Regions from separate parts of the Homo sapiens genome. Here region 1 is linked to region 2. Evidence: fine-mapped expression QTL. Tissue or cell type: whole blood. Region 2 holds a variant in brackets; the other region holds the start of a gene. All regions are shown on one strand. Distances are between the middles of the regions.

Region 1 (5,373 bases), 36 kb after region 2:
TCTGCCTCCTGGGTTCACGCCATTCTCCTGCCTCAGCCTCCCAAGTAGCTGGGACTACAGGCGCCCGCCACCACGCCCAGCTATTTTTTTGTATTTTTAGTAGAGACGGGGTTTCACTATGTTAGCCAGGATGGTCTCGATCTCCTGATCTCGTGATCCGCCCGCCTCAGCCTCCCAAAGTGCTGGGATTACAGGCGTCAGCCACCGCGCCCAGCCCAAGTTTCTTATTCTTTTTGTTTATAGACTGGGTCTCACTCTGTTGCCCAGCCTGGTCTTGAACTCCTGGGCTTAAGTGATTCGCCTCGGCCTCCCAAAGTGCTGGGATTACATGCTTGAGCCACCACACCTAGCCCCGGATTCAAATTTCAGTGTAACATCCCCAATCCACTGTTATACAAGCAATGAACAAGTTATTTAACCCCTCTGAGCCAGTTTCCTCCTCTTAAAAAAGGCACAAAACTTAATAGAAAGCAACTAAGAAGCCAGGCACGGTGGCTCAAGCTGGTAATCCCAGCACTTTCCGAGGCCGAGGAGAGTGGATCACCTGAGGTCAGGAGTTCGAGACCAGCCTGACCAAAATGGTGAAACCCCGTCTCTATTAAAAATGCAAAAATTAGCTGGGCGTGGTGACGGGTGCTTGTAATCCCAGCTACTCAGGTGGCTGAGGCAGGAGAATTGCTTGAACCCAGGAGGCGGAGGTTGCGGTTTGCCAAAATCGCTCCACTGCACTCCCGCCTGGGCGACAAGAGCAAGGAAGGCTCTGTCTTAAAAAAATAAATAAATGAAAATACAAAAATTAGCCAGGCGTCGTGGCACATGCCTGTAATCCCAGCTACTTGGGAGGCTGAGGCAGGAGAATCGCTTGAACCTGGGAGGCGGAGGTTGCAGTGAGCCGAGATTGTGCCACTGCACTCCAGTCGGGGTGAAAAAGCAAGACTCCGTCTCAAAAAAAAAAAAAAAAAAAAAAAAAGAGGCCGGGCACGGTGGTACACGCCTGTGGTACAGCACTTTGGGAGGCTGAGGCAGGTGGATCATGAGGTCAGGAGATCGAGACCATCCTGGCTAACACGGTGAAACCCCGTCTCCACTAAAAAATACAAAAAAATTAGCCGGGCCTGGTGGCGGGCGCCTGTAGTCCCAGCTATTCAGGAGGCAGAGGCAAGAGAATGGCGTGAACCCGGGAGGCGGAGCTTGCAGTGAGCCGAGATGGCGCCACTGGACTGCAGCCTGGGCGACAGAGCGAGAGAGTGAGACTCTGTCTCAAAAAGAAAAACGGAAGCAACTAAGAAATGTCAAGAGTGCCATTTTGGAATCAGAGAAGTCATGCTGACTGAGGCACAGGCTTGGCGTGGGAAAAGTGGACTCCAATCTGTTAACTTCTGAAGTTGTCCACGGCAAATATTTCTCTGACGGCACAGGAAGAGATCTGAACTTGGCTTCCCTCATCCATTGAACAAGTATTAACAAGTATCTATATATGCCTACCGTGCCAGGCCTTATTCTAACCACTGGGGCTGCAATATTTAAAAAGACAAAGTTGGATCCTCCAAGGACTGTGGTGGGGAAGGCTGACAAAACAAGTAACAAAAATGTGTAACATTAAAAAAAAAGTGTAATGTTAAAAAAAAAAAGTGTAATAAAGTTACAAAGCCTAGCCCCAGCTCGGCTTGTTTCCCTAGCTGAAATGGGGGATGGCCGGGCGCGGTGGCTCACGCCTGTAATCCCAGCACTTTGGGAGGCCCGAGGCGGGAAGATAGCTTGTGCCCAGGAGTTCGAGGTCACAGTGACCTATGATAGCCCCACCGACTCCAGCCTGAGCGATAGAGCGAGACCCTGTCTCTAATTTAGAAAAAAGAAAGTTGTGGCCGGGCGCGGTGGCTCACGCCTGTAATCCCAGCACTTTGGGAGGCCGAAGGGTGGTGGTGGGTGGGGGCGCGGATCACCTGAGGTAGGGAGTTAGAGACCAGCCTGACCAACATGGAGAAACCCCGTCTCTATTAAAAATACAAAATTAGCCCAGCGTGGTAGCGCATGCCTGTAATCCCAGCTACTCAGGAGGCTGAGGCAGGAGAATTGCTGGAACCCGGGAGGCGGAAGTTGCGGTGAGCCGAGTTCGTGCCATTGCACCCCGGCCTGGGCAACAGCAAAACTCCGTCTCAAAAAAAGAAAAGACAGTTGTTTAAACATTTTTATGAAATGATATGGGAGGGGACTGGTCTAGGGTTTCTAATAGCCTCCACATCGCCCAGCGGCAGAGCCCACAAAACTGCCACTGGCCGCCACCGGGTTCCTCCACCTCCTTCCCGATCTCAGGCTGGAGAAGTGGTGCAGGGGTCGCTGCGAAAGGAGAGGAGCGTGTATGACGCCACATCCGGCGCGCGGCGGAACTGGCCTCCTTTGCTTCCGCGGCGGGGCCGGAAGTAGGAGCGGCGGCGGCGGCGGCGGCGGCGGTCGAAAGCGGAGTGAAAGAGGGAGGCAGGGAGCCGGAGAGCCGGAACCGGAGTCGCAGCGGCGGTAATAGTGCGAGACTCCTCTAAGTCACCGTCCTTAGCGCGGGACCGCGGGGTTCGACGGGAGTTAGCGGGGGTGCGGCCAGGCCGTTGGACGCCGGGGGGTCCTGGGGCCGATGTGAGGGGAGGCGGGGGTGGGGGAGCCGGGCCGGCTCTAGAATCGAGTTGTCCGCTCCGAGCCCCGGACGGACACTGATCCGCGGGCTCGTCTTGGCCTTTCCCAGGAGACCCCTGTGCGGTGCGGAGGGGGCGGCGGCCCCGACTCTGACCCGCGCCGGGGGTGGGCCATGGCGGAGATCAGCGACCTGGACCGGCAGATCGAGCAGCTGCGTCGCTGCGAGCTCATCAAGGAGAGCGAAGTCAAGGCCCTGTGCGCTAAGGCCAGGTGAGCTCGTTGGCCCTGGGGAAGGGAGGCCAAGCCGCCGCCCACGGGTTCTGGCCTGGGGCAAACCCAACTGAGAACTTTGGGCTTGCCTCGTTCTGGAAGCTTTCCCAGAGAGGAGCAGGATGGAGCCGCTGCCCTCGAGGAAAAGCTAGCCTGCTCGGGGAAGACAGAGTGGATAAAGACACTTAAAGTTTATTAGACGATGTGTTTCCAGTGGAGTAAGAGTGTTACATAAAGTACTTAGGAAACTCAAGGAAACAAGTCCATCTGTCGGGGGACGGAAGCTTGTTGGAGGGGGGCCGAACTGTGGGAGAGGCCTCGAATAAGGAGGTGGTAAAAGAGTCAGCCAAAAACCAAAAGTTTAAGACAGGAAAGTTAAAGACCCTGTGATTTATAAAAGTCTTCTAATTACAACAACCCTTAAAGATTGGTGGTATTGTACTCATTTTACAGGTGGGAACTTTCATGTTCAAAGTTACCCACAAGTAAGGAATGGGGTCTGAAGCCAGCTCTTAGTGTCCTGTCCTTTTTCAGGCCATAATGCAAAAAGGTGGAGTTGGATCATTCACGTTCAGGGTGGGAGCCTGAGAAATCGTAGCAAGTAAGCCAGGGTAGAATTAAGCACGATAGGGAGGCCAGTTCAGAGTTCTGTGGGAAGTAGGATGATGTAGTGGTTAAGGCTCTAGGTTTTGCAGTGTGAGATGGCTCTAGGTTTGAATCTGAACTCTGCCGCTTTCTAGCTGTGTTAGTAATCTTAAGTGTCTTTATTTGTAAAGCAGAATTAATAGTACTTAATAAGATGATTGTGAAGATTCAGTGAGTTGGTGCTGGAGATGAGGTTAGCACAGTGTTTTGGTACAGCATACGTGCTTGATAATCACCAGGTATTCTATTTCTTTTGGAAGAGGGCAATAATGAGATGGGCTAAAGCCATCAGGGAGGGCTTTTGAGTGGAGGTAGGCCTTGAAGGATGAAGATAATTTGGCTAGCTGATGGAGGCAGGGCCAGTGAGGGAAGGGCATTCCAAGCAGGACGAATGTAACAGTGGAGGCCCTGAGATGCGTGGGGAACAGTCAGGGGTTTAATTACCTGCCTCCTCTGGGGAACTGTGTGATTGTGGCTTCTACCAGGCTGGAGAATTGTGGCAGAAGAGCCCACAGAATTACCCTACGTTTATTGAACAGTAAACATTGGCCTTTACAGGGCCACTATTTGGCCTGGCCCGGTACTGGCAAAAAACTTCTATCCATCTCTTCCCCCCAGCAATCCTATGAGGTTGGAATCATTTGCTGCATTTTATCGAATAGGAAGCCATGACTCGTAGAGGTCTGGTGACTTAACTGAGGTCACCCACTGAGGACGTGGCAGAGCTGGGTCCTGAATCTGTGGCCCTCAGGCTCTTTGCCTGGCCCTGCCTCACATAGACTACCTGCAGCCAGACAGGGCCTGTGAGGGGATGATGAGCAGGGTCGGCCTCTTTTTCGCCACCTGTCTGTGGCTTTTCTCTTTTGCCAGCTGACCAGACCAGCCCCATGGTGTTTTTAGTTGTCCCCTTTCCCTCAGTCCTGATTGGCATTTTTAGGAACTTAAACCTGTTGTTGCCTGGCACTATTCTTTAACCTCGAAGTATTGTCTCCCTCACGGGCCCTGGATCAGTGTGGTGGTGATGGTAGACAAAGCTTAGATAGCATGCTGGAGTTTGCAGAATAGCAGGAAGTCGTATATTCAGTCTCCATGGCTCCTTGCAACAGCCTAAGGAATACGCAGGGTGGGCTGAGTACTTAGCCCCATTTCATAGCAGAGGAAACTGAGCCTTTGAGTAGATAATGTCTTGCCCAACATCACGCAGCTAGTCGGAGGGGAAGTTAGTTTTGCATCCAGGTCTTTGACTGTGCTCCGTGGTCACTGAGAGCCAGGCAGAGGCATTTAGATTTTGATGTGGGGTGTGAGGCAGCAGGAAGCCATGGAAGGCTGAGGGGTGGAGGGTCCTGCCCAGTTGAAACTGAGTGGAACTAGGAGGTACTAGGCCAAGGCCTGAGTTGGCCGCTGTTGTCCCAGGCTCAGTCTGAAGCAGGGCCATCTCTGATACCTGGTTATGGCCTCCTGGGGACCCATCAGAGACCCAGGCTGAGGCTGGTGGTGTCAAGAGCACCAGCTTGCCTAGAGGGCACAGACATGCAGATGAAACCAGTGGAAGCACAGAGGTCCGCAGTGTCTGAGCTGAAATTGCTGCTACTAGAAATATTAGCACAGTAGGAGAGCTGAGCTTTTGAATCAGGTGGTCTTCAGTATGAATCTTTGCCTTGTCACCTAGAAGCAATATGACCCTCGTCAAGTCACTTTCTGATTTTTTGAAGTGATAATGACATGCAGTTGAGAGTCCGGGTATCCGGGCACAGGGCCTGCTGCGCTGGTAGCCGTTACTGCAGGCAGGTCCTGATAGGGCTGGGGAAGTGCTGCAAGTGGCAGAACTGGGGC
Region 2 (5,373 bases):
GTGTTGGAAATGGCCTTATATTGATCACCAGTGTATACATATGTAAACATTCTCGAGGCATCCTCTTAAAATGTGTGCCCCTTAAGTGAAGCTGCAGTTTTTAAAATTCTAAATTTAGGCTCTTCCTTTCTCTGAATGATGGTGGGCAAAGCCTTTATGGGCCTCAATTTCTTCATCTGTGAGGTTGGGTTAATAATTAGTGTCACATCATTAAATGCTGCTTAGACTACAGGTCAGACATTGATCTGCATTCTCTGACTCTAAAAGAAAAAAAAAAGGCCAAGTGTGGTGGTGCACACCTGTAGTACCAGCACTTTGGGAGGCCAAGGCAAGAGGATCACTTGAGGACAGGAGGTTGAGGCTGCAGTGAGCTTTGATCACGAGACTGCACTCCAGCCTTGGGCCACAGAGTGCGACTCCGTCTCTAAAAAAATCAATTAAGGGCTGGGCGCAGTGGCTCACGCCTGTAATCCCAGCACTTTGGGAGGCCAAGGCGGGCAGATCACAAGGTCAGGAGTTCAAGACCAGCCTGACCAACATGGTGAAACCCCATCTCTACTAAAAATACAAAAATTAGCTGGGCATGGTGGCATGTGCCTGTAATCCCAGCTACTTGGGAGGCTGAGGCAGGAGAATCGCTTGAACCTGGGAGGCGGAGGTTGCAGTGAGCTGAGAAGCCGAGATCACGCCACTGCACTTCAGCCTGGGCGACAGAGCGAGACTCTGTCTCAAAAAAAAAAAAATTTAATTAAAAATATCAAGTCATTTATCCAAAGCAACCTTGTGGGTAGGGATTATTACTGCACCTCTGTTTTACAGATCAGAAAACAGAGGCACAGAGAGGTTTGGTAACTTGTCCAAGGTTAAACAGTCAGGAAGTGAATAAAAATTTTTTAAAATCATATTTTCTGAATTTATTTGTCCCTATAATGTTAGGCAGATATAGAAAACATAAACTTATTTTCCTAAGGAACTGAAAGGCTTTTTTAAAAAGGAGGGAAAAAACACCACTGAATACAATTTAGACATCCTCATTCATATTTTCAGAACTTATCCTTCTCCTCCTCCTTCCTCTCTTTTTTTTTTTTTTTTTTTTTTTTTTTTTTAGATGGAGGTTCGCTCTTGTTATCCAGGTATCCAGGCTGGAGCGCAATAGCGCAATCTCAGCTTACCGCAAACGTCGCCTCCCAGATTCAAGCGATTCTCCTGCCTTAGCCTCCCGAGTAGCTGGGATTACAGCCATGCGCCACCACGCCTGGCTAATTTTGTATTTTTAGTAGATATGGGGTTTCTCCCTGTTGGTCAGGCTGGTCTCGAACTCCTGATCTCAGGTGGTCTGCTCACCTCAGCCTCCCAAAGTGCTGGGATTACAGGTGTGAGCCACTGCGCCCGGCTTCTTCCTCATATTCTTTTGAGACAGGGTCTCACTCTGTTGTCCAGACTGGAATGCAATGGCATGATCCTACCTCATTGCAGACTCAAACTTCTGGACTCAAGCAATCCTCCTTAGCCTCTGCCTCAGCCTCCAGAGTAGCTGGGACTACAGGTGTGCACACAACACTCAGCTAATTTTTGTATTTAAAAAAAAATTTTTAGCTATGTTCTATGGAAAGGAATCTTTGTACTTTTTATAGAGATGGGGTCTTGCTATGTTGCTCAGGCTGGTCTTGAACTCCTGGCCTCAAGCAATCCCCTTGCCTTGGCCTCCTAAAGTGCTGGGATTACAGGCATGAGCCACCATGCTCGGCCAGTGTTTGCTTCTTTAGCTACTTTATTTTCTTCCCTCTGGATGGGACTCTGAAAATTAAAAGTTAAACCAAGAGCGGCCAGGCATGGTGGCTCACGCCTGTGATCCCAGCACTTTGGGAGGCAGAAGGGGGTGGATCACCTGAGGTCAGGAGTTCGAGACCAGCCTGGCCAACATGGCGAAACCCCATCCCTACTGAAAATACAAAAATTAGCCAGGTATGGTGGTGCACATCCGTAATCTCAATCACTCAGGAGGCTGAGGCAGGAGAATTGCTTGAACCCAGGAGGCGGAGGTTGCAGTGATCCGAGATGGTGCCACTGCACTCCAATCTGGGCAACACAGCAAGACTTTGTCTCAAAAAAAAAAAAAAATATATATATATATATATATATATGAAAAGATCCTGAGCTGGGGTCTGAAACCAGGCAGCCTGCCCTGCTATTTGCCCAGCTCCTGCATAGCTCATTGTGAGGACTAAATCATGCCAATGCATAGAAACTACAATACTTCACACGGTAGCCAGTAGCCAGTTACTGTCATTCTGAGCACCCACTGTATGCCAGGCACCAGGCTGAAATACTTTATATACATGTTCCCGTTTAATCATCTATGCCACCTTACAAATAACTTCCTCATTTTACTGCTGAGAAATCTGAGTCTCAGAAAAGTTGAATGACATGCTTCAGACCATACAGTACATGACAAAATCGGTAAATGTGACCGCTGCCTTCCAAGTCTGGAGAAAAGGAGGCGAAGAGAGGGGAAGGCATGAGGGGAGGAGAGAAGGTGGGAGAGGGAAAAAGGGGAAGAGAAGGGATGAGAGTAGGAGAGGCAGAAGGAGTGAGGAGGAGTAGCACCCCTCTGCAGTTATTTTCTTTTT[CT/C]TTTTTTTTAAATTTGAGACAGAGTCTCACTCTGTCACCCAGGCTGGAGTGCAGTGACACAATCACAGCTCACTGCAGCCTCCACCTCCCGGGCTCAAGTGATCCTTCCACCTCAGCCTCCTGAGTAGCTGGGATGACAGGCGTGCACCACCACACCTGGCTAATCTGGGGAGGTTTTTTTTTCTAGAGATGGGATCTTGCTATGTTGCCCAGGCTGGTCTTCAACTCCTGGGCTCAAGCGATCCTCCTGCTTCAGCCTCCCAGAATTCTGGGATTACAGGCGTGAGCCACTGAGTGTGACCAGGGATGGTCATTTTCCTCTGCACCTGTGCTTACCCTAGACAAGAAAATGTGGAAGGGAGGAAAGTTTACAGGCCATGAGCTGGTTAGAGTCAGGCCCGAGTCTCACTGGAATCTGGACTCTCTCCTACATTTCTTCCTTTCCTTGTCGATTTCTTCTTGTTGAGAGCAAAACAGTCCAAGGCTGCACAGGCTTGTCTGAGAGAGAAAATATGAGAGGAGAAAATTGTGGTTTTGAGCAATGGCTTTAAATTTTTTTAATAGTGACCCACAAGAGATATCTTTTATTTTATTTCTTTATGTATTTATTTTTTGTTTGTTTGTTTTGTTTTTTTGAGACAGAGTCCCACTCTGTTGTCCAGGCTGGAGTGCAGTGGCACAATCTCAGCTCACTACAACCTCCACCTCCTGCGTAAATGATTCTCCTACCTCAGCCTCCCAAGTAGCTGGGATTACAGGTGCATGCTACCACGCCTGGCTAATTTTTGTATTCTTAGTAGAGACACCATATTGGCCAGGCTGGTCTGAACTCCTGACCTCAAGTGAGCTGCCCGCCTTGGCCTACCAAAGTGTTGGGATTACACACGCCTGTAATTTTTGTAAAATACAAAAAATTAGCTGGGCATGGTGGTGGGTGCCTGTAGTCCCAGCTACTTGGGAGGCTGAGGCAGGAGAATGGCATGAACCTGGGAGACAGAGCTTGCAGTGAGCCGAGATCACGCCACTGCACTCCAGCTTGGGCCACAGAGTGGGACTCTGTCTCAAAAAAAAAAAAAAAAAAGTGTTGGGATTACAGAGGTGAGCCATGGCGCCCAGCCGAGATATCTTTTATTTTGTGACTGCAGTTCATGCACCCACACGTTGAATGGAAAACCTTTGCACAACACATTCTGACTTACTATATGCAGTGCCCTGTGGAATTTTCTAGACCATTTTTCCACCAAATATTGATCATGACCCATTAAGCCAATTTCACTGCCCACTAGTGGCTAAACAAGCCAAGCGGGAAAAATCTTGGTTTGGAGAGCAGTGTTTCTCAATTTTTCTTTCATTATTGTTCCCCTAAGGAGCCCTTTTTACACTTTTTTTTCTAATCGCTGCCTATCACGAAAGTTTAATAACACAGATATATTTATGTCTATTTACATATATCTTTTCCATATTAAAAAGAGTAAGTTTTTTGCCCCCTTGGGGGCGATATTATACCAGTTGAGAAGGCATCATTGTCCTAATGCTCATTTTCTGAGCCGCCTTTATTTATTTATTTACTTATTTATTTTATTTTATTTTATTTTTTTCAGATGGAGTTTTACTCTTTTGCACAGGCTGGAGTGCAGTGGCACGATCTTGTCTCACTGCAATCTGCCCCCGCTGGGTTCAAGCGATTCTCCTGCCTCAGTCTCCCAAGGCGCCCACCACCACACCCAGCTAATTTTTGTATTTTTAGTAGAGACGGGGTTTCACCATGTTGGCCAGGCTGGTCTCAAACTCCTGACCTCAAGTGATCCACCCGCTTTGGCCTCCCAAAGTGTTGGGATTACAGGCATGAGCCACCGTGCCCTGCCTCTGATCCGCCTTTATACACATCAATCCCAACATCCAATGAGATAGGATTAGTTCCATTTTGCAAGTGATTAAGTGGAAGCTGAGAGGTTATATTAATTATTGAAGATTGAAATGGCTGGCAATTAGACTGGGAATCCAGAAACTTACCAATATCCTAACTCAGCCTCTAGCTTCTCCAAACCTTTGTTTCCCCACAAAAAAAAACCTCAGTTATGGTCAGTTATGGGTGTTTTTTGTTGTTGTTATTGTTGTTGTTGTTTTTCTCTATTTGACCTAATAAGAGCAAACATTAGGCCAGGCACAGTGGCTCACACCTGTAATCGCAATGCTTTGGGAGGCCGAGGTGGGTGGATCATGAGGTCAGGAGTTTGAGACCAGCCTGACCAACATGGTGAAAGCCCATTTCTACTAAAAATACAAAAAAAATTAGCCAGGCGTGGTGGCACACGCCTGTAATCCCAGCTACTCAGGAAGCTGAGGCAGGAGAATTGCTTGAAACTGAAAGGCAGAGGCTGCAGTGAGCCGAGATCAGACCACTGCACTCCAGCCTGGTGACAGAGTAAAACTCCGTCTCCAAAAGAAAAAAAAAGCAAACATTTATAGAGCATTTACTAGACATCCGGCAGCAATCTAAGCCCTTTATATATATTAACTAACATAATATCCACAATAATCTTAAGACAGACATACTGGGGTTTTTGTTTTGTTTTGATTTTTGAGACGGGGTCTCTCATTTTGTCTCCCTTGATGAAGTACACTGGTACGATTAGCTCACTGTAACCTCAAATTCCTGTGCTCAGGGGATCCTCCTGCCTCAGCCTCCCAAGTGGCTGGGACTACAGGCTCTCAGGCTCATCACTACCAGCTTATTTTTTA

Evidence for each region. PIP is the estimated chance that this variant, and not a neighbour inherited with it, causes the effect.
Region 1: PPP4C starts here. The variant in region 2 is the best candidate, but not a certain one, in a credible set for the expression of PPP4C in whole blood (TOPMed, PIP 0.60).

The regions. Positions count from the first base shown.
Region 1 is chr16:30,073,581-30,078,953 of GRCh38, forward strand. PPP4C (protein phosphatase 4 catalytic subunit) reads left to right here and starts at 2,414. Exons shown (of 9, transcript NM_002720.3): 1 at 2,414-2,514; 2 at 2,735-2,895. The coding sequence starts at 2,798. RefSeq lists enhancers at 1,136-1,315, 2,938-3,027 and a silencer at 2,688-2,827.
Region 2 is chr16:30,038,028-30,043,400 of GRCh38, forward strand. It overlaps a transcript of TLCD3B not described here. Among named protein-coding and RNA genes, the nearest start is that of TLCD3B, 9.4 kb to the left of the region's middle. The variant CT/C (reference allele first, on the strand shown) is at 2,631.